5 linked regions of the Homo sapiens genome follow. The protein of the gene in region 4 interacts with the protein of the main gene of each other region in a pairwise test. Each region holds a gene or a part of one and is shown on either strand. Other genes may lie near its edges. The genes, in order: XKR3, AKAP7, KIF9, ROPN1 and TSNAXIP1.

Evidence for each region.
Region 1: the proteins of ROPN1 (region 4) and XKR3 interact in a two-hybrid assay, tested with the Homo sapiens proteins (one large-scale study listed by BioGRID).
Region 2: the proteins of ROPN1 (region 4) and AKAP7 interact in a two-hybrid assay, tested with the Homo sapiens proteins (2 studies listed by BioGRID).
Region 3: the proteins of ROPN1 (region 4) and KIF9 interact in a two-hybrid assay, tested with the Homo sapiens proteins (one large-scale study listed by BioGRID).
Region 5: the proteins of ROPN1 (region 4) and TSNAXIP1 interact in a two-hybrid assay, tested with the Homo sapiens proteins (one large-scale study listed by BioGRID).

The regions. Positions count from the first base shown.
Region 1 is NC_000022.11:16,816,122-16,822,411, reverse strand, and holds part of XKR3 (XK-related protein 3), read left to right. Parts: intron 1-712; exon of another isoform or gene 713-805; intron 806-6,290.
Region 2 is NC_000006.12:131,132,999-131,139,845, forward strand, and holds the start of AKAP7 (A-kinase anchoring protein 7), read left to right. Parts: upstream 1-2,468; 5' UTR 2,469-2,495; coding exon of another isoform or gene 2,496-2,765; coding exon 2,766-2,784; intron 2,785-2,871; exon of another isoform or gene 2,872-3,844; intron 3,845-4,153; exon of another isoform or gene 4,154-4,704; coding exon of another isoform or gene 4,705-4,753; intron 4,754-6,847. UniProt on the Homo sapiens protein: Probably targets cAMP-dependent protein kinase (PKA) to the cellular membrane or cytoskeletal structures.
Region 3 is NC_000003.12:47,264,624-47,270,913, forward strand, and holds part of KIF9 (kinesin-like protein KIF9), read right to left. Parts: intron 2,641-6,290; coding exon 2,557-2,640; intron 2,446-2,556; coding exon 2,353-2,445; intron 1,255-2,352; coding exon 1,107-1,254; intron 1-1,106. UniProt on the Homo sapiens protein: Essential for normal male fertility and for progressive motility of spermatozoa.
Region 4 is NC_000003.12:123,984,262-123,990,551, reverse strand, and holds part of ROPN1 (ropporin-1A), read left to right. Parts: intron 1-6,290. UniProt on the Homo sapiens protein: Important for male fertility. With ROPN1L, involved in fibrous sheath integrity and sperm motility, plays a role in PKA-dependent signaling processes required for spermatozoa capacitation.
Region 5 is NC_000016.10:67,818,883-67,825,172, forward strand, and holds part of TSNAXIP1 (translin-associated factor X-interacting protein 1), read left to right. Parts: intron 1-1,956; coding exon 1,957-2,069; intron 2,070-2,216; coding exon 2,217-2,343; intron 2,344-4,743; coding exon 4,744-4,837; intron 4,838-5,700; coding exon 5,701-5,897; intron 5,898-6,254; coding exon 6,255-6,290. UniProt on the Homo sapiens protein: Possible role in spermatogenesis.

The sequences.
Region 1 (6,290 bases), on a different chromosome or scaffold from region 4:
CTTTTCTATTATTTATTTATTTTTTTAATTTCCTATTATGGCCTTTGTTGGTTTCTTAGCTGTTACTGTTACTTTAGTTCTTGCTTTGAGGTTTGTAGTGTACATCTCAAATTTACCACAACCTACCTTGAAGAGGTATTACACTTCTCTATGGACAATGTTAAAACACTAAAATAACATGTACCATTATCCCCTCTCAGCCTCTGTGCTACATGCATTTTTAAAATTATATAACCACAATATTTTATTATTTCAACAGTCAATTGCATTTTTCAAAGATTTGATTAAAGAAAAAAGTCTAAAATTAACATACAAAATTGCCATTTTCAGTTTTTGTCATTTTATAAGATCTATTATATCTTTGTGGCACCTATCACAGCCATTTGATAAATTAATTTGTAGATACAGTAAGAATGTCATGTATTTATTAAAGTTTTTAATAGTGATTTTAAAATTTCTTATTAGGTGGCAAAAAATAATAAAAATAAATGCCCAGAACGAGTATGTTATAAAACTAAACTGTAACTCCATGTAACAGCTATAGCATAGTTTGTTTGAACTGAAATTCACATAAAATAATCATATTGAAGTCCAAAAAATTTAAAGATGTAGTGTAAATTCAATTTATATGAAATTGAAGCACGAGGTTTCCTAGATACCTGCTGCCTACAGAGTTAGAATCTAATTCTTCTGATTATTCTTGTAACAAAATCTTTTGAAATTCTAAATTCTGATGCAGAACGTATCAGTGAAACTCCCTCCCACTGTCTCTTGTATTAGCATCAAGGAAGCGAGAAAAAATAAGGTAAAAAAAAATTCTGCTGTGTTTATTTTTTTACCTTCGAAATCTTGCTGAGTATTACTGTTCAACAAATGAAAAAAAAAATTCTCATCAGTTGTACCTGTTTATTGCCAATATACCTGGAAAGCAAATTCACTTTGTGTACAAAGTTGCAGCTGTTTCCAGGTACTTGAAACACAGTAACCAATAAAAATACTCCTTATAATTAGGCTCCTGATTTTTGAGATGCTTTGTTTATCTTCTATAGTACTCTTAAGATAATCTGTTAGAATTATTTTAAGTATTCTTTCTATTGATATTTTTCTTAAGTTTGGCTGTACTGTCATAATAGAGCTTTCTAGAAGGAAAGCAAGTAAAGTTGCTTAACAGCTTTGATATATACATTTTTTCAGTTAAGGTCAATGCTATCATAGAAAATTACATTTTATTTTTAAATTGTGGGTTGAAAGTCTGATTTGTGACTCTTAAACATGAAGATATTGCTTAATATTATTAGTCTTAAATTTGAGCATCAGATAACATCAGAGTTGAAGACTTAACTCTAACATCTTTGTATAATATTTCCATTTACTTGAAATCTATGTCAGTCATATATCTTGTTTGTCTTAGTCATAATTGTTTTATGGATGATAATAGTTTGTGTTTTAGTTTTCAAATGGGAAAAAGGGTATTCTATCACAAAAGAGGGGTATTCATGAAGGAGTTATAACTTACAAGAGATCGTGAAACAGTCATCCTATTTCTAGCATCTGTTAGGTTTGCTTTCTCATCTATAACTGTGCATGACATTTCAGGGGTAACATCAAATCTTTTTTAAAAAATGAATATATTATTTACCTGTCATCACAATTATTTCCTGATTACTCTGTCATTTCTTAGATATTATGCAACTGTTTTTTTGTTAAGTAAGCATAGTAAGTGATTGAATGAAAGAATGGTCTCTGTATTGTGTACTGGAGATGGAGACTATGTATGTCAACAAGATGGCGTACTAGGAAGTGTCAGGCCTTCATGCCTTCACAGAGTCAGTGAATTAATAACAATATTTGGACCACAATACCTTTGTGAGAGCTCCAGAGACCAGTTGAGAAGCTGCAGCACCCAGGTCCATGTTAAATATGAAGGAATCCAGCAAAAGGAGTATGAACATTCATGTCATTTTACTTGTCAGTAGATCTGTTTCCATCTCCCTGTGTTGCATAGTGTGGCAGAAACAGGAGGAACACTTCCCTGCCAAGACTCCTCACTCAGTTTAACTCCCTGGGATTCTTCCAATTATACCTGCTAATAGTCTATTTCATTTTTATTGCTGAGTAGCAACCCATGGTATAAATGTACCACAGCTTGTTTGAACATTCACAATTGAAGAACACAAGGGATGTTCTTAGTTGAGTTGCCTTATACCTTCATGTACAGTTTTTTTGCGTAAGTTTTATTTTCTGTAGGATAACTGCACTGAGTTGCAAGGTTGTCTGACAGCTGCATGGCAAACAGTTTTGGACTGACCCTACCATTTTACATGCCACCAAACAACGCATGAGTGGCTTGTTATTTCTACATCTTCACCAGCATTTGGTGTTGTCATTACTTGTTAAAATTGTAGGTGTTTTAATAGATGCAGTGATGTAGCTAGTAATGTTCAGTGACTTTTTGTGCATTTATTTCCCATGCTTATATCCTTCTTAATGAAATGTCTTTGTACCCTTTGTTCATTAGCTAATTAATTTTTACCTAGGTATAGTAATTGGGTACACATTTCATATATGCTTTCTTCCATCTGCACATTGGCTTTCTAGTCTCTTCATAAGTTATTTCACAGAGCAGAAGTTTTAAGTTTTGATTTGATCTAATTTATCAGATTTTTTTCATGGCTTGTATTTTTGGTATCAAATCCAATAACTCTTTGCCACGCCTAAGAGGGTTGAATTTTCTTTATTATTTTTTAAAGTTTCCTAAAAAGTGTTAGAATTTCAGATTGCATTGAAGTTCATGAACCATTTTGCATTAATTTCTGTAGGGTGAGTTTTATGTTAAGGCTATTTTTCCTTAACCTATGGATGTCCACTTGCCCTAGCACAATTTGTTAAAAGGTTATTTTTCCTCCACTGATTTGTGTTTGCCAGCTTTGTGAGATATTGCATCATATTCAAATCAGTGTGACTCTATTTCTGGGCTTCCTTTTCTACATTTTTTATGAATCTATCCCTAGGCAAATACCACACTGTCATGATTACTTTGGCTGTGTAATAAGTCTTTAAAACATTGTTGACAGATTCCTCCCATTATATACTTCTTTTTCAAAATTGTCTTAGCTATCCAAGGATGTAAGTTTGCTTTATCTCAAAAAATCCTTTTTGAGATTTTGATAGGAATTGCATCAAATATATAGATCAAGCTGGGGAAGATTAACACAACATATTGAGTCTTCCAATACATTAACACAATGTATCCTTCTTTATTACTACTTTGATTTCTTTCACCAGTGTTTTATATGTTTCAGCATACAGAGCCAGCCCATACCTGTTTTTTTTTAATGTATATCAGAGCATATCACATTTTTTGGAGCAGTTGTGGATGATTCTGTTGCAAATTTGGGGTCCTCCTGACCTGTAGCATAGGGAAATAGCAGATTGCTGACTAGTTTAGATTCATTTCAACTGTTCAGAGGATAGGGGGTTGGGTGGTGGTAGATGCTTAACTCCCCAGTGGAGCCCACTGACAGAATAGGGTAGGGTAGTGGAAAGAGCAGTCAAGAAGCACAGTGCAATCATCTCTACTTAGATCTGGCTCTTTAACCACTATTGTTGTTGGGTGGACCTGGGTGCTCAGCTTGCTATTGGACTCTGCTGACACTGGTTAGGGAATTGGAATTGGAATGCTGTCCTCTGTTTTAGCTGGTTGGGAAATAGAAGATTAGCTGCCTCCTCTGACTTTAGAGGGAATCAGAGCATCACTGACCTGGGAGAAGCTTGTCTCTGTACATGGCTGCAGAGAAACTGAAGTAGTAGTTTTTTTTCTGTGGTGTTCGTCTGGAGTAGTTTGGTTATTCTCCATAGAACGGTTTTGTGTAGTTGTTTGTAGTTAGGTTATCCTCTCCTGGTCCTTGGGCTGCGAGAGAACAGGATTTTCTTGAAGCTCTTTTTGTCTGTGCCTATTGGAGATTCAGAATTGGAAACTTCTATAGTCCATTATGTGGGATACATGGAAGGCAATAAGAAAACCCAGTATCTTTACCATAGTATCACTCTTCAAGTCCTGAAATCCCTAGACAAGACCTTTCAGAGTCTGTCTTTGTTTCTTGTCATTATGTCCGTGGTGTTTTAGTTGTTCAGAGGAAACACTGGGGTGTTGCATTGTACCTGGAAGTCCTAGGAAGTCAAAGTTTGAGGAAGGCTTTAAAGTACAAAGCAAACCAAATCTCATAAAGCAAAACATGGGGAGGTATGATTGCAGAGAATGAAATGATATGATTTACCTATAATAAAGTGATTTTATAGAATAAACTTTTCACCAAAATTAATCTCGAAGAAGTTTTATAATATATGTGAAAAAGCCAATGATTTATAGCATATAAATAATATAGGTCAATGAAGAACAGATGAAATACCTGCCATACACTTTGGAAAAAAAATAAAGTTGGCAGTGCTTCCAGAAAATATTATCAAAAATATGTTCTTTTTCAACTGCAGAAGGGATATAGTAATAATGGCTTTTCATAGGTTTTATTTGTTAAGTAACAAATAATTCAATTGAAATCAAGCACTTGTTTCTAGTTCTCTGGGGCAATGTGAGCAGTTGCAAAACCAAATATTATGAAAACCAAAGATTAAAAGTGTAATATAATATTCTTTTTAAAAAAATAAAAATGGCTGTCAAGAAAGAAAACATCTGTGAGATTTGAACTCCAATATCACTAATTTGGGATAAACTGGATAGTTCATTGAAATAGTCAACTGAGGAGTAAATGTGGATATATTCCCAGGGAAGAGACCATTTCTGAGTCCAGTGGGGTTTGGCTTCCTGCCTAAATAATTTGTTAAAGAAAGTGTTGTTTAGACATTTAGCTGGAATATTTGAGCCAATATAGAAAGCCATTGACCACAGATACTAGGATCTAACACAGAATGAGGTTTTTATTCAAAGCCATGAGGGGAAAGTTCATATCTCAACCTCCATCCTATGTGATATTCAAGACTGAGGTCAGATTTTTTATATTACGTACAAGATATAACTACCTCAAAAGCAGAAACTGATTGGTGGACGTTCGATGCCCTAAGAAACAGCCAAAAAAGACACACTAAGGGGAACACTCAAGGATAAAAAGTTGAATTTAAAGATTCTTCATAATAAGTAGGTTTTGGTGTTCTCTGAGATGAATAAATGGAATCTAAAGGCAAAACAGGTGAGTAGGAGGACAAAAATAAATTTTTTAAATAGAGAATTATATCTCATTGAAAAATGAACCATATAGTAAAAAGTCAAACAAATTTTTGTTTCTTTGTTTCTTGTATAGTAGATTCAGCACAAATATAGTAAGAATAAGTAATTTTCTAAGTGGATCTGAAAGTAAGTTTGCCAGTTGTGGGGGAAAATACATAAATGTAAATGTCACATTTCATTTTGAAATTTGATAGTTTGCTGACAAACAACATATAATTTATTTTTGGTATGAGTCTCTTCCTTGCAATATTGAGAATATAATTATACTAAAATGCTATTTATTGTTTATTTAAAATGAAAATGCAACTGGGAATTCCATGTTATATCTGATGACCATACATGAAAGATAAGTTAATAAAAATTGAGCTCAGAGTAGACAACTTTCATATTAAATTACAAGATACACCAGAAGGAAAACATGTATAGAAGGGCCAAAAGGCAGAATATGAAAATAAATTCTACACTGGATATTATTCCACATAAGTTGTCATTTAATAAAAATACATTTTTCAACTCACAAAGATTAAGCAAATATTAAAGACTTAGTGAAAGCCAAAGGAAAAGAAGTATAAAACCTATTATTTTTATTTTTTAGCAGGGACAAAAACAAATATCAAAATTAAAATGGTACGTAGGAATTTGTGTGGGTTTTTTTTTGTGGGGGCTAGAAATACATTTTACATTTTTAGGAAAAAAATATCAACTAACTGGGCCCTTTTGATTAGCTACAGAAAGTGTAGAAATATGGTAGTTAATGTCAAAACCAGGAAAAATGAATATTTTTTCAAAAAAATGAATAACTACAGAAAGTGTAAAAATATGGTAATTAATGTCAAAAGCAGGAAAAAATAAATTTCTGCAAGAAAAATAATACAATTAGAAAAAAAGGTTCAGGGTAGGGAGAGGGATTGAACAACAGGCTGAAAGAGAGGCGGCAAAGGCAGAGACAGAAAATCTTGGGTAAATAAAAAGATATCTAATCAGATATTATGTAGATAAGAGAGTAATCATATTAGATGTAAATGCTTCCAAATTATGTGTTAAAATA
Region 2 (6,847 bases), on a different chromosome or scaffold from region 4:
TTAGAATATATTGATGATCTTTGCATCAATCAGTTATCAGTTGTGGTGGCAAAATGGTAATTTTCCAATTATTTTATGTCTCCTATATTTATTATTGAAAATTCTTCTGTGCAAAGCAGCTTTCCCATACTACTACTTCTAAAAAGTCATGGTAAATCTTTCTTTCCCTTTAATTTTTAGAGTAAGGAGACTAAGGAATTGCGTACTTGTCACCTTTAATGGTGGCCTACTAGTTTTTCTTCCTCATTTTTTGAGTATTATTATGGGTATATAGATTTTGTATTCAGTATGTTACAATAATTACAGGTGTTATCCTTTTATGATGTCAGATTATCTCCCATTTGCTCAAAGAAAGCTGTTTCTCGCTAGTCCTTGTGTTTTTGATAGTCCCCATTTGTCTTTGCTTTTTGGCACAAGAAGATGTCCAAGGTTCACCTTGTACTTCCCTTTCTCCCTGTCATTTCTAAAAGAAGCTCTGTGAAAAATTCCTTTTTCAGACTTGGGTAATTAAAATGTTCCTCCACATGGTAGGTGTTGATAAGACTCTGTATTCATAATACTGGTGGTGAAAAATATGTGGCATTTGGGCTGTTACCTCTGCTTAGGTAAGAGAATGAAACTTCCATATATCTCTTGGTACACACCACAGGGGAAGAAAAATCTTTCTCCTGCCCATTTAGTTCACTAGGTTGGACTGTGTAAATTAAATTGACAAAAGACAGATTAAGACGAGAAAAGGATTATTACACATGCACATAGATGCTTCACAGGAAAGAACTAAAAGCCCGAAGAGGCAGTTAGAACTGGGGGCTTCTATACCATTTTAACGATGATAAAGTGTGGAGAGGCTAGACAAAGGAAAAGGGGGCTTAGCCTTTTTGCAGTATGGGAAGGTTACTAGAAAATGTATGGGTTTGTTATGCAGGTAAGACTCATTCTCCTCTTTCTGGTATGGGTGAGTGGTAAAGCTTTGTTGTTTGTTTGTTTGTTTGAGACAGGATCTGGCTCTGTTGTCCACACTGGAGTGCAATGGCATCATCTCAGCTCACTGCAACCTCCACCTCCTGGGCTCCAGCGATCCTCCCACCTCAGCCTCTGGAGTAGCTGGGATTACAGGCATGGGTCACCACGTCTGGTTAATTTTTGTATTTTTGGTAGAGACAGGGTTTTGCTATGTTGCCCAGGCTGGTTTCAAACTCCTGGACTCAAGTGATCCACTCGCCTTGACCTCCCAAAGTGTTGGGGTTACAAGCGTGAGCCACTGGGCCCGGCCTGGTAAAGCTTTAAAAATAAAAATTTATGTCACCTTTACGAAGGGAAATTTATGTCCTGCTTTTAGGCAGAAAGGGGGAGGTCAAAGTTGTTCCTGAGTCTTTAGTTTCTGAACTGTTTTAAGCTCAAGAATAATCCTTATGCTGAAGTGGCATATTTGGGGTGGCATATTCTCATCCTCTTCACTATGAATGTGGACCACATTTTTGCAGCTTTTATTTCCGCAGTTACTTATGTTTCTTTCTCTGCTATTATATGATCAGCTCCATAAGTAAAAGACCTGTCTTACCTGCACATCCTCAGCACAGAGCTCAAGCATTAAATAAATATTAGGGGAACTGGTTGTACTTTCCTACCAGCCCATAAATGGGCATCAGAAACTCAACGTGTTAGAATTATTTGAAAATCAGAGTAACTAGTTTGCCGACTTCTAGTGTGCAGCCTTTACGCCAGCTGTTGTGGCTGTGTAGGGGTCTTCTTTTCTTCCATCCCTATTCTACGATGCATTCAACATAAGCGAAGTGTTATTATTCACGAAAGGCGCTAATTTGTGGACGGATGCACCTAATGTTCTTAACCCCTGGTTTCTTCGCACTAAAACCAATCCCAATAGCATTCCGTTTCAAGTGAAAGGTTTTTATTTTTTTAAACTAAGTAAATTTCTTTTTCTCCCAATTTACTCACTGCAGTACCTTATACTACAAGAACCAGCAACTGGTTTCCTCTTAATGTCTAAACATAACATCATTGTTAAAAATTAGAGACTTTGTCACAATTTGCAGTTTTTAAAAGTAAGGTAAATAAAGTATCTCATTATACAGAAGTACAAGGTCTCGTTCTTGTACATTTCGCTCTTCCCAAATATTCTGCAATCAGAACCCTGATTGCAAAACTAAGCACATGGATTCTCAAAAGACACCAGGCCAGAGAATTCTTTCATCCTAGTCCCAATCTCGCCCTTGAAAGCGTGGGAGGGGCAAGGCTGCGCCACGGGAAATAAATGAGGGCTGCCAAAGGCCGTCGGAGGCCGCGGGGCTCGGCAGGCAGGCGAAGACCCAGCGTCGCATTGCAGAGTCGAGACGACCTGGGCTGCCGTGACGCCGCAGTCGCCGGCCCTAGTTTCCCCCGCCCTGCCCGAGCGCGTCCGCGCCTCTCGCCCGAATCCGGGTACCACCGGCGACTCGGGTCGGCCCCTTCTGGCTTGTTCCGGCGTCCGGCCTGGCATGCGGGTGCTGCGGCTGCTGCGGCTGCCGCCGCCGCTGCTGCCGCTGCCGCGGGGGCTGCGGCTTGGGAAGCTCCGCGCTTCCGCAGGCCTGGCCTCCGCCGCCCGGGCCCCCGCAGCCTGTCGCTGGACCCCGCGCCGGCCCAGCGCACCGCCCTCAGGCCCCGAGCCCCGCCCTGGCCTCCGCCTCGGCCTCGCCTCCAGCCCCGGGACGCGGCCCGCCACCGCCGCTGCCGCCAGCCCAGACGCGCCGCCCGCATGCGCCGCGACCATGGAGCGCCCCGAAGCGGGTGAGACCGGGCTGTCCAGCGGGCCGGGGCGGGGGCGACAGGAGCCGCGGGGGCCTGGGCCTGCTCTGCGCTCGAACTTTGGGAGGGCCTGACCCGCGCCGGCCCTTCTCCGAGTCTCCCTCCTTCCCAAAAGGACTCAGGGTAGCACCGAGAAGCCCGGTGCAACCGGGGTGTACATCAGTGCTGCCTGTAGCGAAGCGTTTTAATGCACGCATTGTGGGTCCGACAGGAGGCGGGGGTATGAGCCCATCCCCGAGTTTCACTTTTCTTTCTCCCTTTCTCATCCTGTGACCCTTTGCACAAAGTTCATGCCAGTACACATTCCTTCCGACGGTGTTGATGTGGGTAAATGTAAACAAAACCTAGTAAAATTTCGATTTTATCTTATATCACAAATATTAAGCACCCGAACCACCATACTGTCTCATTTAGGATTTTCTGCCAGGTTTGGACATGACCGCTTTTAAAACTGGCGCCAAGTCTACACTAGCGCCCGGAATGAATTTCCAGTTTAGGTCAGCGTTTGTTGTGAACTGAACTTTGTGATAGAGCGAGTTAGGGGTGGACTTTCGGTAAAAGGGTCCGCAAACCAATTAGAGAAAAGGTGCTCCTCTGCAAGAGTTTCATAGGATAAACTCATAGAAGAGTATAAAAAGCATAAAAACGTTAAAGTGTACTATATAAATAGCAGTTAATCGTGTGAATATGTTGACAATTGTTAAGTGAATGATGACAGTGAGTTTTTGCATTTAGGAAATGCATGGGAATGGAAATTGTTAAGGAGAAAAGAGCCATACTCCAGTTCCTTGTTTAAGTGCCGTGGCTTTGCAATTCAGGATCCTGTTAGCATATCTGTATATTTTCCTTACTCATAAAGTTTAAGATGTTTGTGGAGGTTACTTCCTCCTTTCATCCATTTTCGGACACTATTAACTTGTTTTGTCCATTTCTCCCTAATAATTTGGATTTTACTTTTGTTCCCTTTTTATGAGGAGGAAAGGAAAGCCTGGAGGTCAAGTAACTTGTTGATTTCTACGCAGCTGTCAACATTTACTAACGTGTAAGATGCTAATACTATTTTTAGTAGCTAAGCCAGGACTAGAATGGATGCCCTTAGCCCTTTCCAGTTGTTCTTAGGAATAAACTTATTTATGTATGTACTTATGTATGTATGTATATATGTATATATGTATTTAGAGACAGGGTCTTCCTCTGTTGGCTCAGGTGGAAGTGCACTGGCGCGATCATGGCTCACTGCAGCCTAGATCGGCTGGGATCATGCCAACCTCCTGTTTCAGCCTCCCCAAGTAGCGGGGACTACAGGTCTGTGCCAACATGCCTGACTAATTTTTGTATTTTTTTTTTTGTAGAGACGGGGTCTTGCCATGTCACCAAGGCTTGAACTCCTGGGCTCAAGCAGTCCTTCTCTGAGTGCTGGGATTACACGTGTGAGCCAACTTGCTCAGCTGGGATAAATTTACTATTTACCTAGTAGAGTGATGAGAGACTTACTTCACAAAATTGAGTAGTCATTTATTATCCAGTTAGGAAACCTGCATTTTGTGTGACAGTGGGAGAACTCTCCATACCCTTTTCTCTCTCTTTTTTTTTTTTTTAGAGGCAAGAGTCTCGCTCTGTCGCCCAGGCTGGAGTGCAGTGGCACAATCTCGGCTCACTGCAACCTCCGCCTCCCAGCTTCAAGCGATTCCCCTGCCTCAGCCTCCCGAGTAGCTGGGACTATAGGTGTGTGCCACCACGCCCGGCTAATTTTTTGTATTTTTAGTAGAGATGGGGTTTCACCGTGTTAGTGAGGATGGTCTCTATCTCCTGACTTCGTGATCTACCTGCCTCGGCCTCCCAAAGTGCTGGGATTACAGGTGTGAGCCACCTCACCCGGCCCACCCTGTTGGCCTGTTTTTGATGAAGGCATTTGCTTCACCTGTATTTGAATATTTGCATATATTTAAAGGTATGGTTTTATAATATACTTAAAATGTATGTATTGTTTTTCTTAGGTAATATTCAATTTTGAAACGTTTGAATAGCAGAAATGAGAAACATGAATATATTCAATATAGTTGTCAGCATTTACAAGCAGTTTATACTGTTTAGCCTTTGGCCACATAATTGTAAATCATAGAGCATATGCAATTTTATATCTCCTTTCTAAAAACTTGGCATTTGTTGTTAGCTTTTTTCTGTCATTGCATTCTTCATAGTCATTGTTCGTAGTTGTCATTGTCGCGAGCATGCTTCGTTTAACTGTTTCCCTATTTTTTTCATTGTTTCTATTTCATTGTACCCAGTCACCATCCATGTTCCCCCCACCCGTTCCACCACCCTCCCCAGCCTCTGGTAACCATTCTTCTATTCTCTATCTCCATGAGTTCAAATGTTTTAATTTTAGTTCCCACAAATAAGTGAGAACATAGAAAGTTTGTTTTTCTATGCCTGGCTTATTTCACTTAACATAAGGATCTCCAGTTCCATCCATGTTGCAAATGACAGGATCTTATTCTTTTGTATGGCTGAATAGTACTCCATTGTATATATGTACCATATTTCCTTTTTCCATTGGATAACCTTAGTTATCCAACACTTAAATTGCTTCCAAATCTTGGCTATTGTACCATTTCCTTGTTATTAGGCATTTAAGTTTTGTTCCACTTTTCCTTTTTTGTTTAAATAAAGCTGTGGTGAATCTTTGAGCATGGATGATAGATAACCAGAGAGCAGTAAGAAGAACATCGGAAGAATATTTCTGTGGCTTCTGGTCTATTGCCAGATTGCTTTCTGAAAGGATTGCCTCCGTTTACATTGCTATAGTCAGTGTATAATAAGGTGGCAGTGTGTGGTGCCAGAAAGGGCATAATGGTAATAGAGTGACTGGATTCCAGTTCCAGCCCCAAGACCCACTAGTTTTACCCTTGAGCAAGTACTTATTTAATCAGTTAGTTTGTAAAATGAGCATCATAATAGTACCTCTCCATAGTGTGGTTGTGTGGATTAAATGAGTTCCTCCCAGTGCTTCCAGCTGTGCCTGGCTTCAAGCATGCACTTAAATGTTAGCTGTTGTTAGTAGTAGTAACAGACATATTAATAGTTTACCAGCTTCACCTCATCTTTATGTTATTAATGCATTTGGAAGCATAACTTTTATTTGGATTTATACAAAAGATAGAATTTTAACTATGGTTAGAACAAATTGTAGGAGACTTTTAAGTACTCAACCCAATGAACTTAAAAGAGTTTAAATGCTTTAAGAGTTGGTTATTTTAAGGCAGTTTTCCAAAAGCAAAATATTTATACCTTCTATAAGAGAAAGTGTAGTTATGACTGGTGTATTTAATTCACATCTACCAACCTTTGCCCAAACACTAGAGCTTAGAGAACTGGAGGAAGTGTTCTAAATATTTGGTTTGAGAAACATTGTTCTATAGAATGACCAGCAGTTCTTTCAAGACTTATTTGAAAGTGGCACTCCTTTTTTTTGAGTTAATAATTCCTATCTCAAAAATTGTTGAGTTAATAATTCCTATTATTCTATAGCTTAAGAGAAGATAGTTGTTTGTATTTCAAGTTCTAGACTCCTGTGGATTTTGATGTAACATTGCATTTGAGTTTAATATGCTTTATTTAGCAAGGTAAAGAATGATGTTGAACAAGTTATATTATGCTTTAATTTTTATTTTCATGTCAAATGGGATACTAGTACTTTTCCTTTATTCATCTGGTGAAAATGAGAGAATCTGTGTTGTGCTGAGGCTGCCACTAAATACCAGGAATTATTTTTCATGGGCAGTGAGATAGCTGTATTGCATTGTAGCTATCTACACTAGCTACTAGTGACTTACTAACCACTCTCAAATGTGGACTTACCTTTATCACATTTATTCATTCAGTAAAAATTTATTGAGCACCTATTGTGAGCTGAACTCAGTGCTAGGCATGGAGGAATCAAAGGAGAATAAGACAAGGCTTTTAAGGAACTTCGACTATGGTGACGACACATGATGGAGTGCAGTTATAGGAAGTTGTCCCTTTCACTTTCAAAAGTGTCCTG
Region 3 (6,290 bases), about 77 Mb from region 4:
GATGAGGTCTTGCTATGTTGCCCAGGCTGGTCTTGAACTCCTGGCCTCAAGCGATCCTCCTGTCTCAGCCTCCCAAAATGCTGGGATTACAGGTGTGAGCCACCACACCTGGTCAAGACTGAATGTTTTTGTCCTTATAAAATTCATATGTTGAAGTTGTAACCCCGACGTGATGGCATCTGGATGGAGGACTTGGGGAGGGGGAGGTAATTTGGTTTAGTTGAAGTCAGAGGGTGGGGCCCCCATGATGGGGTTAGTGTCCTTATAAGGAAAGAGACCAGAACCCTCTCTTTCTTTCCATGTGAGGATACGCGAGAAGGTAGCCATCTGCAAGCCAGGAGGAGGGCCCTCGCTAGGCATTGAATCTGCTGGCACTTGAATCTTGAACCTTCCAGTCTCCAGAACTATGTGAAATAAATGTCTATTGTTTAAGCCACTTAGTTTATGGTATTTTCTTATAGCAGCCTGAACTGAGACAGGGTCAGAGAGGACACACACATCTGTGAGGCTGGGAGGTAAGGGGAAGAGAGAAAGAGAGGCCACCACATGTACCTAAAAGAGGATCCAGGAGAAAACAGCAGAGGAGAGATGATACAGGGCAGGGAGGGGCAGGGACAGGAGAGGGAGGTATGAGTTGGAGCTTTGCTCAGGGTGGCACTCAGTTAACAATCAGACACTAGTGACTGTGTTGTCAGGCTCAACACAAAGGCCTAGGGCTATGGGGATGATAAGACAAAGCCCCCGCTGCTCTGTACAGGAGGCTGCAGGGGAAGGGAAGACACCATGGGAGAGAGGCCCTCGCCCCAAGTCTTCAGGCTGTGAAGGATTCTGCCAGCTGTCTCCTCAGGACAAGAGGAAAAGAGAAGGTATTCCTAGCACAGGTAAAAAGCCTAAGGAAGGTTCTGAGGAGTGAATAGCATAGTGTGTTCTGGGCACAGTGCTTGATTCTGCCTTTCCAGGTGTCTGAAGTCACTGTGAATGTGCTGCAGGTGAATCCATGCCACCAGGAGGGAGCAATTCTATCATCACCAGTGGCAGATGTGCCAAACCTGTCCCTCCCCAAAGACACAGACCCTCCTCCCTGGGCAGCAACTGTACCCCCTCACCTAACGAGTCCTTCAGAGCGTGGGTGAGCTTGCACTGCCGAAAGGGGATGTGGTCCCGCTTCTGGTCCCCAAGGGCAATGATGGCCTGCTCCAGGAATGAGAGCGATTTGTTGATGTAGGTGGCTTCCTTCAGGACTTGGCCCTCAGACTACAAAGCAAAGGTCAGTTCCACTTTGGATGGAATAAAGCAGCTGCCCCACTAAGAATAGCAGTCTTCCTGGTCTGGAGAAATGCTATAAGTCTGTGGTCAGGTCAGCGCCTCCTTCCCAGAACCAGGGTCTTCTTTCAATGTCATGCGATTGTATTCCATCTTGGGCTAATAATGGTAATACCAAAACTCAGAAATATTCATGTGAACACTCATGTGAATACTCATGCGAATGTGAATGCTTACATGAATATTCATATGGACATTCACTCAAAGATTCACACTAATATGAATATGTACTGAAATACTTGTCTAGATATTTGAGCAAAGAATCCTGTGAATATTCACACAAACACTCATGAATGCACATACAAATGCTCATCTGAATACTCTTGTTAATACTTCTGCTAATACACTCATACAAATATTTATTTGAAATACTCATGCAAATACTCATACGAATACTCATATTCATTCACAAAGAAGCCAGGTGTGGTGGCTCACACTTGTAATCCCAGCACTTTGGGAGGCCAAAGCAGGAGGATCGCTTGAGCCCAGGAGTTCAAGTTCAGCCTTGGCAACATAGCGAGACCCCGTCTCTACAAAAAAATTTAAAAATTAGCTGGTCATGGTGGTGCATACCTGTGGTCCCAGATACTTGAGACACTGAAGTGGGATGATCACTTGAGCCTGGGAGGTCAAGGCTGCAGTGAGCTGTATTTGTGCTACTGTACCCCAGCCTGGGAGACACGGCGAGACTGTGTCTCAAAACAACAACAACAAAAACACACACAGAGAAATGCTATACCAGCAAGGAATATTTACTGAGCACTGAGTGCCAGGCACTTTGCTAAGAATGTAGAGGGCACTATCTCATTTAATGTTTACAAAAATCCTCTGAGGTAGGAACCGCCCCCAGGTAATAGCCGTTCCCTTTTTGCAAATCCTGTCCCTCCAGCAAGCCCACATGTCCCACTTCGCCTAGCTCAGGACTGTGTTCACAAATATCCAATGAGTCATGGCCCAGATGTGCAGGCACTGTGCCAGAAAAAGGGCTTGTGGTTTATTGAGTAGCAACCTCCAGCCCCCATCACTTACCCCAGACTTCCCCAGCCTCTCTGAGCCTGCCAGATCCACCAAGTTAATTTTGGAAGTGATGTACTTTTCCTCTGATAAGGTCCGGGAATGGGCCTACAAAACATCCAAGCAGAAGTTAGACTGTCACAGGGAGAAGTTTCTGACTGAGCAGGCCCCGTGGGAATTGACTGCCCCGCCTGGGCTGATCAAAGAGCTTGCACCTACCTCTAAGTAGATGGTGAAAATGCAGTGTGATCTGGAAGAGTTTTTGTTCATAGTGTGGGAGGCTATAATCCTGTTGGTCTCACCCTGAAGAGGAAGGGAATCATAGGCAACATTTCGAAAAACTAAAACGACAAGGCACTTGGGTCATTTTTCAATTATACCAATAGCTACACAAGTGGTCTCATATCACTGCGATCAGCTGGGCCTTCCAGGCAAACCTCTTTTATAAACTAATAGAAAGGGAGTCAAATTGGAGTCCACATCTACACTTTCACCCGCCGCTGGGGAAGTGTGAATTGGTATAGCTTTCTGGAAAGCAAAGTGACAATAAAAATCAAGAGCCTTAAAAATGTTTATGAATATTGAATCAGAATCAACCTGCATGTCCAACAATTTGGGAATGATCTATGTATACAGTGGGATATTGGGCAGCCAGGAAAATGCTGACACATAGTTTTTAATAACAGAGAGAAATGTAGAATCCAAAATCATATTATAGCTGATCTAAGAAATGCAAAAGCATTCATAGAAGAAATAAGCAGAATTCTGCTAATAAGATGTTAATAATAGTTGCTTCTGGGTTGGGGTTTATAGGTTATTTTATCTTTTTTATACAGTTTTGTGGGTTTTTTTTAGTGAGCATGTATTACTATAAAAATAATAATTTATATTTTTATTTATTTTGTGTTCTCCTTTTTTTTTTTTTTTTTGGGAGAGCATCTCAGTCTGTCACCCATACTAGAGTGTGGTGGCACGATCTCGGCTCACTATAACCTCTGCCTCCCGGGCCCAAGCCATCCTCCCACCTCGGCTTCCTGAGTAGCTGGGACTACCAGCGTGCACTACCACACCTGGCTAATTTTTGTATTTTTTGTAGAGACAGGGTTTCACCATGTGCCCAGGCTGGTCTGGAACTTATGAGTTCAAGAGATCTGCCCGCCTCGGCCTGCTACAGTGCTGGGATTACAGGCATGAGCCACTGTGCCTGACCTAGTAATTTGTATTTTTAAAGGGACAGTAGGCCCTTACCTCTAATTTACAGGAGGAGGCCTTATGACCAGAATATACTTAAAAAGGAATTTTTTGTAGAGACAGGGTGGTGGTGTGGTGGAAATGGCTGTTCTTGGAGAAAAAGGTCCTTGAGGGATAGACTGATGTCTCCTTAAATGCTGATGAGAAGTGCTATGAACAAGCCCCAAAGTGAGGGTGGGGGACAGCCCCCCCTGGGGAGAGGAGAGCACCCGCTGAAGAGGGAAGGCCTGAGGCTGTGGAGCAAGCCTAGCAGACTCCTGTGGCCATACCTCTATAGCTTATAGTAGTGAGGCTATAGTCTATGGTCAGGCCTGTTCTACAAATCCAGTGACACTCACCAAGAATATAAGGGGTCACTTCATTTTTCTTCTTCTTTTTTTTTTTTTTTTTGAGATCATTCTCACTCTGTTGCCCAGGCTGAAGTGCAGTGGCGTGATGTTGGCTCACTGCAACTTCTGCCTCCCGGGCTCAAGTGATCCTCCTACCTCAGCCTCCCAGGTAGCTAAAATCACAGGTACAGGCCACCATGCCAGGCTAATTTTTTATATTTTTTTGTAGAGACAGGGTTTCGCCATGTTGCTCAGACTGGTCTTAAACTCCTGAGCTCAAGCAATCCTCCTGCCTTAGCCTCCCAAAGTGCTGGGATTACAGGCATGAGCCACCACAGCAGGTCATTCACCTTTACTCTTCAGTCCCCCTTCTGAAGTACCCTCTTGCCTTGTCTTTCTTTTTTTGTATTTTTAATAGAGAGGGGGTTTCACCATGTTGGCCAGGCTGGTCTCGAACTCCTGACTTCCAGTGATCCGCCTGCCCCGGCCTCCCAAAGCTCTGGGATTACAGGTGTGAGACACCGCGCCTGGCCTTGCCTTGTCTTTCTGGCCCTTTAAAAAAGATCCTGCTATTGACGTTGAGGAAGTAAGTTGCTATGTTGTGAGAAGGCACTATGATCATGCCTGTGAATAGCCATTGCACATGTGCCCATTGCCTGGGCAACACAGCGAGAACTTGCATAAAAAAATAAAGAGTTCCTAGCCTATATGACTTCTAAAAGAATAACATACACTTGACTGATTTCTTTTCTTGTTTTTGAGACAGAGTGTTGCTCTATTACCCAGGTTGGAGTGCAGTGGCATGATCTCAGCTTACTGAAACCTCTACCTGCTGGGCTCAAGTGATTCTCCCACCTCAGCTTCCCAAGCAGCTGGGACCACAGGCATGCGCCCCCATGCCTGGCTAATTTTTGTATTTTTGGTAGAGGTGGGGTTTCACTGTGTTGCCCAGGCTGGTCTTGAACTCATGAGCTCAAGTGATCCACCCGCCTTGGCCTCCCAAAGTGCTGGAATTACAGGCGTGAGCCACTGTGCCAGTGCATTTGACTGGTTTCTAAGAGCCTTTATTTTATTTTTTTGAGATGGAGTCTTACTCTATTGCCCAGGCTGGAGTGCAATGGCTTAATCTCAGCTCACTGCAGCCTCTGCCTCCTGGGTTCAAGCAATTCTCCTGCCTCAGCCCCCCGAGTAGCTGGGATTACAGGTGCCCACCACCACTCCCAGCTAATTTTTTTTTTTTTTTTTTTTTTTTTTGAGATGGAGTCTCCCTCTGTCGCCAGGCTGGAGTGCAGTGGCACAATCTCAGCTCACTGCAACCTCTGCCTCCCGGGTTCAAGCTATTCTCCTGCCTAAGCCTCCTGAGTAGTTGGGAGTTAGCGCCACCACATCCAGCTAATTTTTGTATTTGTAGTAGAGACGGGGTTTCACCATGTTGGCCAGGATGGTCTCAATCTCCTGATCTTGTGATCCGCCTGCCTCCGCCTCCCAAAGTGTTGGGATTACAGGCATGAGCCACCGTGCCCAGCCTAATTTTTGTATTGTTAGTGGAGATGAGGTTTCACCATGTTGGCTAAGCTGGTCTCGAACTCCTGACCTCAGGTGATCCACCCACCTCAGCCTCTCAAAGTGCTGGGATTACAGGCATGAGCCACCGCACCTGGCTCTAAGAGCTTTTGTATAGTAAGGATGCTAATTCTTATTTTTCTCTTTTTCTTTTCTTTTTTTTTTTTGAGAAGGAGTTTTGCTCTTGTTGCCCAGGTTGGAGTGCAATGGTACGATCTTGGCTCACTGCAACCAGTGCCTCCCGGGTTCAAGTGATTCTCCTGCCTCAGCCTCCCTAGTAGCTGGGATTACAGGCACCCGCCACCACACCCAGCTTATTTTTTGTATTTTTAGTAGAGATGGGGTTTCACTATGTTGGCCAGGCTGGTCTCAAACTCCTGATCTCAGGTGATCCACCCACCTCAGCCTCCCAAAGTGCTAGGATTACAGGCATCACCCACTGCACCCGGCCTTATTTTTTTCCATACAAGAGCTCATAATTTAACTGAAAAAAGGGACATAAGAATCATTTCAACTATGTAAAGAAAAAGCTGCACAGGAAAAAAGACTGGAAGGAAATGAGCTAAAATATACATTATTGTTGCCTTATGTAAAAAACAGATTATGCATGAATCATTTTTTCTTTTTATTTACGTAACAGGAAAGGAAGAGGAAATAAAATTCTTTTTTGTTCCTTTTTTTTTTCAGCACTATCTGAACTTGCTAAATGTGCATATATTAATTTCCATTCTGATAATCAAAGTAAGTAAAAAACTAGCTGGACACAGTAGCTTGCCTGTAATCCCTGCACTTTGAGAGGCCGAAGTGGGA
Region 4 (6,290 bases):
GCTTTGGTGCCTCTTCAACTCAGAGAGTCTATGATTTCAACTCTGTGATTCAAAAGTGCATGGAACTCCTGAAAGTAAATGGGAACATGGGGGGATAATTTGACCTGACCCTCCTTTAGTGTTTTCTATTTCTACAAGGGTACCACCACTGTGCACCCAGTCATCCAAGCTTGAAAACTGATAGTCACTCTAGACTTTTCTGTCCTTCACCTCTTCCTCCTTCTCCACCTTCTCTTCTTCCTCCTCCTCCACCTCCTCTTTTCTTCCTCCTCCTCCTCCTTCAGTAGTTACCAAATCCTGTAGATCCTATCTCCTAAATACTTGTCTCTTATATCACTCCCTATTGCAACTACTTTTCAAGGCAGTGAAGCTCCTGGGAGTTGTCAAAAGTGCTGCCATATTCTCCTAACCTGGCTCCCTGCCTGAAGCTTCACCATCCTCTCTTCAGCTCATCCACACAGCTGTCAGTCAACGTGTTTCAGAGTCCAACAAAGAGAAATAAATCATATAGTAATTTTTTGAGCATATAATTTAACAAGAGAAGTTCAATATAAAGAATTGTTAATGATGGGATTGGAGTAATGAAGGATTGGCTAATATGTCAGGAGAGATCTAAAATATACAGGAATCACAGATATAAGGGGCAACCACTACCCCTGAGATAGATCACCCAAGGAAGAAACCTTTCCCAGAGCTTGGTGCATAGGGGATGGCCACAGCTGACTGGAGAGCAGAGAAATTGCTGAGGTGCCAGGCAGGCAAAATTTACTCTCTGAAACACCAGAGAAGCCATTCACTAAAAGGTAACTCACTGACAGCACTCTGCTATAGAGCTTCCCAAGAGAGGTGCCAGGGGACACTGCTAGCCATGGAGCACTGATAGCCACTGTGTACTCCAGCAGTTGGGCACTCAAAAGATCACACACTGCATGAAACAGATGCTAGAAAAGCTGTGTGCTACAGGATCCCAGCATAGGAGAAACTACAAGTTCCTGGAGCCTAGCAAGAAGAGCATACCTAAATTCCTAAGAGAAACCTCTTCCTCCTCCAGTCCTTCCAGTGCCCTGTCCTAACAAAGCATATCCTTATGACAGCTGACAAGGGAAAAAATGTTAAAGGACCTAGTTCAATTTTTGTGGAGGAGGCAATACAAGGTGAATTTGGAGCTGAGAGGCAAATATTGATAACCGGACCTAAAGCTAACACTGATTGTGTGACTCTTGTGCTTAAATTTTCTAGTGGTTCCCCATTGCCTTCAACAAAAAGTTCAAAAGCCCAAGCCTTGAGCTATATTTCCAGCCTTAGGCCCAACCACTCCTGCTTTGTCCACTTTAGAGCTCCATAATTACAGTTCCCTGAACTTGTCACGTTTCTGACAACCCCACATCTTTGCCTAAGTCCTTCTACCTACATGAAATTCTCTCCTTACTCTCATAAGTACACATATGCTTACTGAATACCTGCCCTGTACCCGGCTGTCTTCTGAGGGCTTGCAGTACAGCAATGAACAAACCAGGTTTTTCCAAGTCTCAGTTCAGATATCTCAGATATCACCACTCTTTGAAAAGTATTTTCTGACCTCCTTCTAATACCTGCAGATGTTAGATGCCTCATCCAAGAGTTTTTCTTCTGTTTTTCTTCTGTTCTTCTATATCTAGTGCAGGCTTCTTGACACTTATTATACCTTCTTTGAGTCACTGATTTTCCTGTCACTCTCTTCCACTGGACTGTGAGCTCCATGAAGCAGAGTGTGTGACTTATTTATTCATGTATCCCAGTATTCAGCACAATTCCAATAAAACACATAAATTTTGTCAGATTAATGATTTCCTAAGGATCACATAATTAGTCATAAATAGACCCAGGGCCAAAATCCTGGACTCCTGCCTCACAGTCAAGAGTGCTTCTTCACTACAGCTTCATCTGCCCTCTAGATGTTATGCCACAACTAGCTACGAAGGATAGCAGCCCTATGTTTTGCTTTGGAAAAGGCCAGTGCAATGCTGAATATCATCAGGAATGGTAATGGAAACTGAAGAGAAACATAGCCCTAATCTTATATTGGAAACTATAGTGCATTCACCCCCTCAGAGCCCTTGCTTGTAGGTTTTAAATCTCTGACTCACAGGAATGCTATAATGAAATCAGAAGTAGGAAGGACAACTTCTGATTGTCCTTCTGACCTGATTGTCAGCCTGACCAACATGGTGAAAACCCGTCTCTACTAAAAATACAAAAATTAGCCAGGTATGGCAGCACACACCTGTAGTCCCAGCTATTCAGGAGGTTGAGGCAGGAGAATTGCTTGAACCCAAGAGGTGGAAGTTGCAGTGAGCCAAGCTCATGCCACTGCATTCCAGCCTGGGTGACAGAGCAAGACTCCATCTAAAAAAAAAAAAATGTAGGAAGGACAAGTAAAAGATGAAAATGGTGTGGGGTATTATGACACTTACTCTTAATAAAGACTTTCATACTCTTATATAAGACAGGGCTAAGGTGACCCAAGTGTGTACACCAGGTCCCCAAATCAGGGAACCATGTTGCACAACTTTACAGGACATAGTTTACATGCCAGTCTGTAAATGAGCCATGTGTCCCTAGAATTGTGGATGATGATGCGAATGAACACGAGGGAAATCTTTGAAATATGAGCATGGCTTAGATAAACCAAAAGAGGTACCTATTCATTTGTTAAATAATAAACATGTAGAACTCATGCTTTCAAGAGGTAATACTAGCATGATATATAAGCAAGTTTGGGAAATTTGCTAATAAAGCCAAAAACTACTACTCAAAAAAAGGACAAGGTCAAGTAGGACTGCTCTTAGCAATATTGCTGTTGGCATCCAAATGCTGTGTTGACTTGGCCATGGGTTTGTCTCAGGATAGAAAAAGATCCAGGCTTCTGTGAAACACAGTTGAAGAAGGAAAGTTAATACGAATAAGGCAAATTGGGGAGATCTTGAAAGTCAGACAGGGCATAATTTTTATAAGAAAAGAGATGAAGATCCATTAAACGTTTTTCAGAGTTATGTAAAAACATGAGTGGTTAAGAAATTTTATTGGAGGGCAAGATGGCCAACTAGACGCAGACAAGTGGAACAGCTCCCACAGAGGAACTGAGATGACTGGAGTGCTTTTAACATGTCTTCAGAGGGAAGGCACAGACAGTGGACAGAGGGAAGGCACAGAAGCTTGGCTGAAGGGGGAGAAAGCTGGGAACCCCATACAGGCTACCATACACTGAAGCTCATTTTTGAACCACAACAGCTCTGGGGGAACGAGTGAGTTGAACTAGCAAGGAGCAACCTGCTCTCACCAGGGTCCACTGGAACCCTGGAAGGAGGGGACCCCTCAGTCACCACAGAAACTTGAGGTGGCAGGGAGAGCTGCTTAGAGAAGTAGGGCAGCAAGCCAGCTGATGTGGACCCCAGAGAGTTTGGTGTGGGAGTGTTTGTAGTACAGCATGGCCAGGGATGGCCATTCCACTAGGCTCAACTTGCTCCAATAAGAGACTTTAGCTGTAGGGGAACTGTTGGACCTGATCTCTGCAGGGCGGTCTTGTTCATCAGATGGGGCTGGTCTGATCTGAGCACCCCTTGGTCTGCTGGCCTCTTCCAGGCACAAGCCTGGCCATGCCTGCTTACAGGGCAGTCTCAGGTGCCTTGGGGGTCCACACCATAGCTTCTGCACTGGTGGACCATGCCTGATCAGTGGAGAGCTCCAGCAAGGTGGCCCCTATGGCTGCATGCTGCAGCCAGTACTTTCCCTCCCCATACTACAGCTTCCCTGAGCCCACAACAACTACCCACATCACTTTGCTGGCCCATGTCTGCACAGGCAGGTTTTGTTTTACTTGCCCCGCCAGCACACAAGAGTGTAGTCCACCCCTGCTGACCCCCACTGACTGCCACTGCAGACAGAGCCTTGGAGGGTACAGAACCAGCAAGCACCACCCCTGCCAACACCTTCCCTCGTGCTAACACTGTGCAGAGAACAGCAGATCCTCCTCCACCCTAAGCAACCACCCCTGCTTGCAGGACACAGAGAAGTCACCTGGACTTGCACCGGCCAGCACCCCACCCCCATTCAACACCACCTCCAGTGCAACAGCACACACAGTCTCCATCAGGGACCCCTGCTCCCCACAATAGCTGCCTTGCCTCTGCCACTGTGTGGTCATTTCAGGAACTTTTGTATGTCCCTGAGGACTTTGGAAACCATTTTTGTAATAATATTAATAAAAATTATTAATATTTAATTTTAAATTACCTTTTATGATGGAAAGTAAATAATATATATAAAGTACTTAAGGAGACTATAGGCCTTTTTGACTACAACAAATCAGTTTTCAAAGAAAATATGGCTGTCCTTAAGAATATTTTTAAATAAATCACATGAAATTTTTGAAAACTTAAGCATTTGGTAAGTAAAGGGGGAATTTTGGAAACATTATTTAATTTAGTAATTACAATTCTAGATTTTCACAAAATATAAATATCATTTATTTCAAGTATAATTTAAATATTTTGATTTTTTTTTTTTTTTTTTTTTTTTTTGAGACAAGGTCTTGCTCTGTCACCCAGGCTAGAGTACAGCGGTGTGATCTTGGCTCATTGCAACCTCATCCTCCCAACTCAGCCTCCTGAGTAGCTGGGACTATAGGCATGTGCCACCATGCCCGGCTAATTTTTGTATTTTTAGTACAGACAGGGTTTCACCATGTTGCCCAGGCTGGTCTTGAACTGAGCTCAAGTGATCCGCCCACCTCAGCCTCCCAAAGTGTTGGGTTTACTGGCGTGAACCACTGCACCCAGCCAAAAAATATTTTTATAAGACTTTACTGAAGGCCTAGAGTCTCCTTTACTAAATCATTAAATTATTTTCTATTATTTTTTTAGAGGCAAATGTTTATTATTTTTGTAAACAAACAAGTCATTACAAAAGTCCATTAAGTATCAGATTTTGGATATTTGTTTAACATCAAAAGCCAAGAATAAATAAGTCACAAACAAATCAAGTCACAATGGGAAAAAAAGTGAACAAAATCTACTGTTTTCTTAGGGACAAATGATGATGATGATGGTGATGGTGATGATGAAGAAAAATCATATAACTTCTTTGTTAGGAGAAAATAATGTGAAAAATAAGAGAAAATTAAATCAAAAGTAGAGCTAAGTATTTGCAACACATATGCATAAAGATTATCATTGTCACTGATAATAAATGCATTGCAATTAAAGTAATAATCCAACGTACAGGGATTGTTTTAACAAGATGGTTGAAAGGAAAAGCCCTATAAAGGCGTCTCTGGCAGCAGGTGTTATACATAAAACCTTCGGCACAGAAACAATAGGTAATGAAATCTGGAAGTTTACTGACTGTGCCAAACAGTATCCAAATATAATTTCAACTGTTGTAAGTTTGTAAGTGGTTGTACATTTTGTATTACTATAAAAAGTTTACAACCATCAATCTTTCATGGCACACCTGTAGCCCATTCTGCCATGGCCTCTAGTGGGGAGCTCAGCTTTAGAGAGCAATGAAAGGCAGAAGAGGATTGAGTGGTAATATGCATACTACAAACAATATTTGATGATATCCAAGTTTTCTAGGAAGGCCTATGGCACAGTATGAAAAACCCTGGGGAAGTATAGGGTTTAAGCAGATGAAAGAAGAAGGGCACTTCAAGTAAGCCGGCTAGAATTAGCAAAATACTGAGGGGAAGAGAGAAAAGAAGGATAGATTACTGTTAACAGTGGGCGAGACAGTGTTAAGCTTTGGATATATAATTTTTTTTTTTGGAAAGTGGCCAGAGCAGACTGTATAGGAAATTTGTGTTGGTAAAGAGTAGCGGAAAATTTTTAGTTTAGAATTATAGGTACAAATCATAGAAAACCTTGAAAGTCAGGATATGATTGTCATTTTGTGAGCAGTGCTCTCTGACTATAAAAAGCAACTTGGAAGATAGATCTGGACACACTGAACAGGACAGGCCAGAGAATGACCTGAGACAGGGAGACTAGTCAGGAGGCTGCACAATAGGTGATAAGGGGCTGAGCCAGAGACACAGGAGTAGAAATAGAAAGGGATTAATTGAAGACACATTTCAAAGGAAATAGTGGGATTTAGTGAGATTCAGCAGACTGAAGAAAATGGATGACTCTCAGACTTTGAGGCCAAAGGACTGAGAGATTAGTGGTATCATGTTCAGAGAAGAACCTGGGAGAGAGATTTAGTTGGGAGATGGACAATGGATTCTAGTGAAGTGTCCTGGAGGCAATGGGAAG
Region 5 (6,290 bases), on a different chromosome or scaffold from region 4:
TAGTAGAGATGGGGTTTCAACATGTTGGCCAGGCTGGCCTCAAATTCCTGGCCTCAGGTTATCCGCTTGCCTCCGCCTCCCAAAGTGCTGGGAATCAGGCGTGAGCTGGGCGCGATGGCTCACACTTGTAATCTCTACTAAAAATACAAAAGAACTGGGCATGGTGGCAGGCCAGCTACTCGGGAGTCTGAGGCAGGAGAATTGCTTGAACTCAAGAGGCAGAGCTGCAGTGAGCAGAGATCGTGCTACTGTACTGCACTCCAGCTTGGGCAACTCCAGCTTGGCAACTCCATCTCAAATAAATAAATAAATACATACATATAAACATACATACATAAATAATTACATCCATTTTGATAGTCTTTTTTTTTTTTTTTTGAGATGGAGTTTCACTCTTGTCCCCGTGGCTGGAGTGCAAGGGGTCGATCCCAGCTCACTGCAACCTCTGCCTCCCGAGTTCAAGCGATTCTCCTGCCTCAGCCTCCCGAGTAACTGGGAATACAGGCGTGTGCCACCATGCCCGGCTAATTTTTGTATTTTTAGTAGAGATGGAGTTTCACCATGTTGGCCAGGCTGGTCTCAAATTCCTGACCTCAAGTGATCTGCCCACCTTGGCCTCAAAGTGCTAAAAGTCGCACATCTTGGCCTCCCAAACTGCTGGGATTACGGGCATGAGCCACTGTGCCCGGCCAGAATAGCTAATCTTTACTGAGTTCCTAGCAAGTACCAGGGTCCATGTGAAGCACACATTATGCTTTCCCTCTTTTTTTTTTTTTTTTTTTGAGACAGAGTTTTGTTCTTGTTGTCCAGGCTGGAGTGCAATGGTGCAATCTCAGCTCACCGCAACCTCCGCTTCCCGGGTTCAAGGGATTCTCCTGCCTCAGCCTCCTGAGTAGCTGGGACTATAAGCACATGCCACCACACCTGGCTAAATTTTTTTTTTTTTTTTTTTTTTGAGACTGAGTCTCGCTCTGTCGCCAGGCTGGAGTGCAGTGGCGCAATCTTGGCTCACTGCAAACTCCGCCTCCTGGGTTCATGCCATTCTCCTGCCTCAGCCTCCAGAGTAGCTGGGACTACAGGTGTCCGACACCACGCCCGGCTAATTTTTTGTATTTTTAGTAGAGACGGGGTTTCACTGTGTTAACCAGGATGGTCTCGATCTCCTGACCTCGTGATCCATCCGCCTTGGCCTTGCAAAGTGCTGGGATTACAGGCGTGAGCCACCATGCCCGGCCTAATTTTTTTTTGTATTTTTAGTAGAGACGGGGTTTCACCGTGTTAGCCAGGATAGTCTCGATCTCCTGACCTCGTGATCCACCCACCTCAGCCTCCGAAAGTGCTGGGAATTACAGGCGTGAGCCACCGCGCCCGACTATGCTTTCTCACTGCATCCTCACATCAATACACTGTGACAAAGACTACCATCATCCCTATTTTACAGACGTGAGAACTAAGGCTCAGAGAAGTTGTGACATAGCTAATAAGGGACATTTGAGACTTAACCCGAGTCTTCTCTAACTCAAGAACCCACAGTCTTAATTATGAACCATGTTGAGAGATGTTTGTAAAACACATCAGGGCTGGCCAGGCACAGTGGTTCACGCCTGTAATCCCAGCACTTTGGGAGGCCAAAGTGGGTGGATCACGAGGTTAAGAGTTCAAGACCAGCCTGGCCAAGATGGTGAAACCACGTCTCTACTAAAAATACAAAAATTAGATGGGTGTGGTGGTGGGTGCTTGTAATCTCAACTATTCGGGAGGCTGAGGCAGAGAACAGCTTGAACCTGGGAGGCGAAGGTTGCAGTGAGCCAAGATCGTGCCACCACACTCCAGCCTGGGCAACAGAGCAAGACTGTCTCAAAAAAAAAAAGTCAGGACTGGGGGAGGAGAGATGGAGAGAAACATTAGGAAGGGGAGCAATGTTGCCATGGCAACCCCACCTGTACCTCCCTGCAGACTGGTCAGTTCTCCATGGGTGGGCACCTGTCCCCATGGCCCACATACACCAGTGGCCAGACCATTTTGCAAAATCGAAAACCCTGTTCAGATGACTACCGGAAGCGAGTAGGGTAAGCCAGGGTCAGTCCCATGGTGGGTGAGCTGGCATGGGCCAGGCTTTGGGCCAGGAGACAGGGCAGGGGCGTGTGTTGCCCCAGACTGAGGGCACAAGGGCCCCGTGGGGGTGCTGGCCACATATCAGCCACTGTCCCCTGCAGGAGCTGCCAGCAGCACCCCTTTCGCACTGCCAAGCCCCAGTACTTGGAGGAACTGGAAAACTACCTACGCAAGGAGCTCCTCCTGCTGGACCTGGGCACAGATTCCACCCAGGAACTAAGGCTGCAGGTCAGAGCCACAGAAGAAACTTGGGGAGGGCGGGGGAAGGGTGGGAAGAAGCTTCACCTACCGGCCGGGCACAGTGGCTCACGCCTGTAATCTCAGCACTTTGGGAGGCCAAGGCGGGTGGACCACCTGAGGTCAGGAGTTCAAGACCAGCCTGGCCAACATGGCGAAACCCCGTCTCTACTAAAAGTACAAAAATTAGCCAGGCATGGTAGTGGGCACCTGTAGTCCCAGCTACTCAGGAGGCTGAGGCAGGAGAATCGCTTGAACCCTGAACCCGGGAGGCAGCGGTTGCAGTGAGACAAGATCACACCACTGCACTCCAACCTGGGCGACAAGAGTGAGACTCCGTCTCAAAAACAAAAAAAAGCCTCACCTACAAGGACTGAGCACCTCAGACCTTCAGGGGAGACCCACCTCTCCCAGCTCTCCTGGGTCTCCTTCCCTGAACAGAAGCATGAAACATCCCATGAAAATGCCAGTGAGGCCGGGCACAGTGGCTCATGCCTGTAATCCCAGCACTTCGGGAGGCTGAGGCAGGAGGATCGCTTGAGGTCAGGAGTTCAAGACCAGCCTGGTCAACATGGTGAAACCCTGCCTCTACTAAAAATACAAAACCTGCAGTGGTGGTACACACCTGTAGTCCCAGCTACTCAGGAGGCTGAGGCAGGAGAATTGCTTGAACCCAGGCGGCAGAGGTTGCAGTGAGCCGAGATCATGCCACTGCACTACAGCCTGGGCAACAGAGTGAGACTCTGTCAACAGAAAAAAGAAGGCCAGGCACGGTGGCTCACACCTGTAATCCCAGCAGTTTGGGAGGCCGAGGCAGGCGGATCACCAGGTCAGGAGATCGAGACCATCCTGGCTAACATGGTGAAACCCCGTCTCTACTAAAAATACAAAAAAATTAGCCAGGTGTGGTGGCAGGCACCTGTAGTCCCAGCTGCTCGGGAGGCTGAGGCAGGAGAATGGCATGAACCTGGGAGGCGGAGCTTGCAGTGAGCCAAGTTCACGCCACTGCACTCCAGCCTGGGCAACAGAGTGAGACTCCATCTCAAAAAAAAAAAAAAAAAAAGAAAACGCCAGTGAGCAGGCAAGGCTGCAATGTGGATCCAAAAGTCTCCTGAGGCTGGAGTTTCCTCACCTGAGTCAGGTGGCCTGGATGCTGTGCCCAGTCCCTGCAGCTCTGTGATCCCCAGTACCCAGGTTGGGCCACTGGACATCAGTGAACGTAGCCTGAATGCTGGCAGTTGGGCAAGCAGGGGTCACACCGTGTTTACCAGTCCAGTGGCAACAACCCCAAGCTTAAGGAACCAGCACAGATGCATAAGGAGGGAGGGAGGAAGAGAGAGAGAGAGAGAGAGAGAGATCAGATCCAACCCAGATACCAGTGTATAGTAGGGAGAGAATCACCAAATCTGCTTAAACAAGGATGATGACAGAGAATCCCTGCCTTTTGACTTAGTCATTGACTAAAGCATTTACTGAGCACTGGCTATGTGCAAGTGCAAGGCCCTGGGCTGGGGCCTTACATCGATCTCCTGAACAGATAAGGAAGAAAGCATACCACTATGGCGTAGTGGGGCTGGGCTTCAAACTCAGGGCTGACTCTGGAGACTGTGCTCATTTCAGTGAGCAATGCTGCCTCCAGAAACCTCCCATGTGTCCAAATGGGACAGAAGACCACACCCCTACTTGCATGTCAGGATGCAAGGGTACAACCTTCAATCTCCTGAATCTACCAGGCTCTAAGATGGGGAGAGGTTACAAGTGAGAGGCCAATGATGCAGTGTCTAGAAGGCAAGAGGCTGGCTGCCTGGAGAGCCAGAGAGGGGCTCAGGCACAGAGTGGATGTCTGTCTATGGTCATGGCAGTCCACTAGGCCTCAGAGACAGCATCAGGACAGGCCTCCAGAGAGCTGCCCCCCAGGCTCCGTGGCACTGTGAGGTACCCGGGTGGTATCTAGGGCATTTACTTGAATATAAGTGACCTGGCAGCCTCATGCTGGAATACTGCTAAGCCCAGTAAAGAAAAAAACAGTGCCAGGCACAGTGGCTCACACCTGTAATCCCAGCACTCTGGGAGGCCGAGGTGGGTGGATCACGAGGTCAGGAGATCGAGACCATCCAGGCCAACATGGTGAAACCTCATCTCTACTAAAAATACAAAAATTAGCCAGGTGTGGTGGCGCGTGCCTGTAATCCCAGCTACTCAGGAGGCTGAGGCAGGAGAATCACTTGAACCTGGGAGGCAGAGGTTGCAGTGAGCTGAGATTGCACCACAGCACTCCAGCCTGGGTGATGGAGCGACACTCCGTCTCAGGAAAAAAGAAAAAGAAAAACAGTTCCCCACTAAGGTTGGCAGCTGTGGGCTAGGAGATGATGGGTTCCCTTTTCTTGCCAGCCTTACAGAGAGATCTTTGAGTTCTTCATAGAGGACTTCAAAACGTACAAGCCATTACTATCCTCCATCAAGAATGCGTATGAGGGGATGCTGGGTAAGAATGCACCTCCTGCCAGGCGTAGTGGCTCACGCCTGTAATCCCAGCACTTTAGGAGGCCGAGGCGGTAGATCACTTGAGGTCAGGAGTTTGAGACCAGCCTGGCCAACATGGTGAAACCCTGTCTCTAGTAAAAACACAAAAAAATTAGCTGCGCATGGTGGCACACACCTGTAATCCCAGCTACTTGGGAGACTGAGGCAGGAGAATTGCTTGAACCTAGGAGGTGGAGGTTGCAGTGAGTTGAGATCACACCACCGCACTCCAGCCTGGGCAAAAGAACAAGACTCCATCGCAAAAAAAAAAAAAAAAAAAGAATGCAGCTCCCCTCCTTGTCCCAGCCTGGAAGGGGTGGAGAAGATCCTATTCGACCTTCTGGTGCTCCACAGCAGGGCTGGGGCAGCTACCAACTGGGCCTTGAGGTCACCAAGGCCCCTCAGCCATTCTGCACAGACTGTTCCATGATAGGGCACCCCAGAGCACCTGACAACACCTGTCATTGAGAAGCACAGGGGGGCAGTCCCTGTTGAAAATGGAGTGAACCCCAGGAGAGAGTCAGCACCTCTGGGAGTCAGCAGGCTCCCCTGCCAGGCTCAGGAGGTGCAGGGCATGGTGCAGCTGCAGGACTTAAGGCTGTAGGGGAAAGGACATAGGAGAGACCCCGGTCTTCATCTGAACTCTGCCCTTTGTTTAAAATCAAGTGCAGGAAGGCCTGAAACAGGGACCATGGCTTTGAACAAGGCATGCAGAGATTCTTGGGGTTTGCAAGCGACATAGCCACTCACCCATGACCTTAGGGTGTCTTCTGGCTGTTTGTTCTCCATGGCCCCAAAGCAGCTCTCCCACCTGTCTCTGCTTAGCCCACCAAAGGGAGAAGATTCGGGCTCTGGAGCCCCTGAAGGCCAAGCTTGTCACTGTGAATGAGGACTGCAATGAGAGGATCCTGGCCATGAGAGCTGAGGAGAAATATGAAATCTCCCTGCTCAAGAAAGAGAAGATGAACTTGCTAAAACTCATCGACAAAAAGAATGAGGAGAAGATTTCATTGCAGAGCGAGGTGAATGGAAGTGGTGTGATGATGACCAAGTCCCCGAATTCCTGCCAACTCCACGACAAGGGTGACCCCCTACCCTGCTCTGCCTTTCTACGGAGAGTGACACACTGAGCCACCACCTTCCCCCAGAGCCTTGCTAACTCCACCCTCTGCCCTGCTGCTAGGCTCAGTACTTTCCCCACAGGGGGAAACATTGGCACCTTGCCGAATTCTCAGAAATGGCCAATCTCCTTCTTCTTTCACCTTTCCTGTTCACAGTCCCTGATGGGGCCCCCCAGAACCCAGCCCACTCCCTGGGGTGACCAGCTGCATACAGGGGTCCAGGGGCAGCCCCTGACCACACAGCCACCTTCTTGCCAGGTGACCAAACTGAGGAAGAACTTGGCTGAGGAGTAC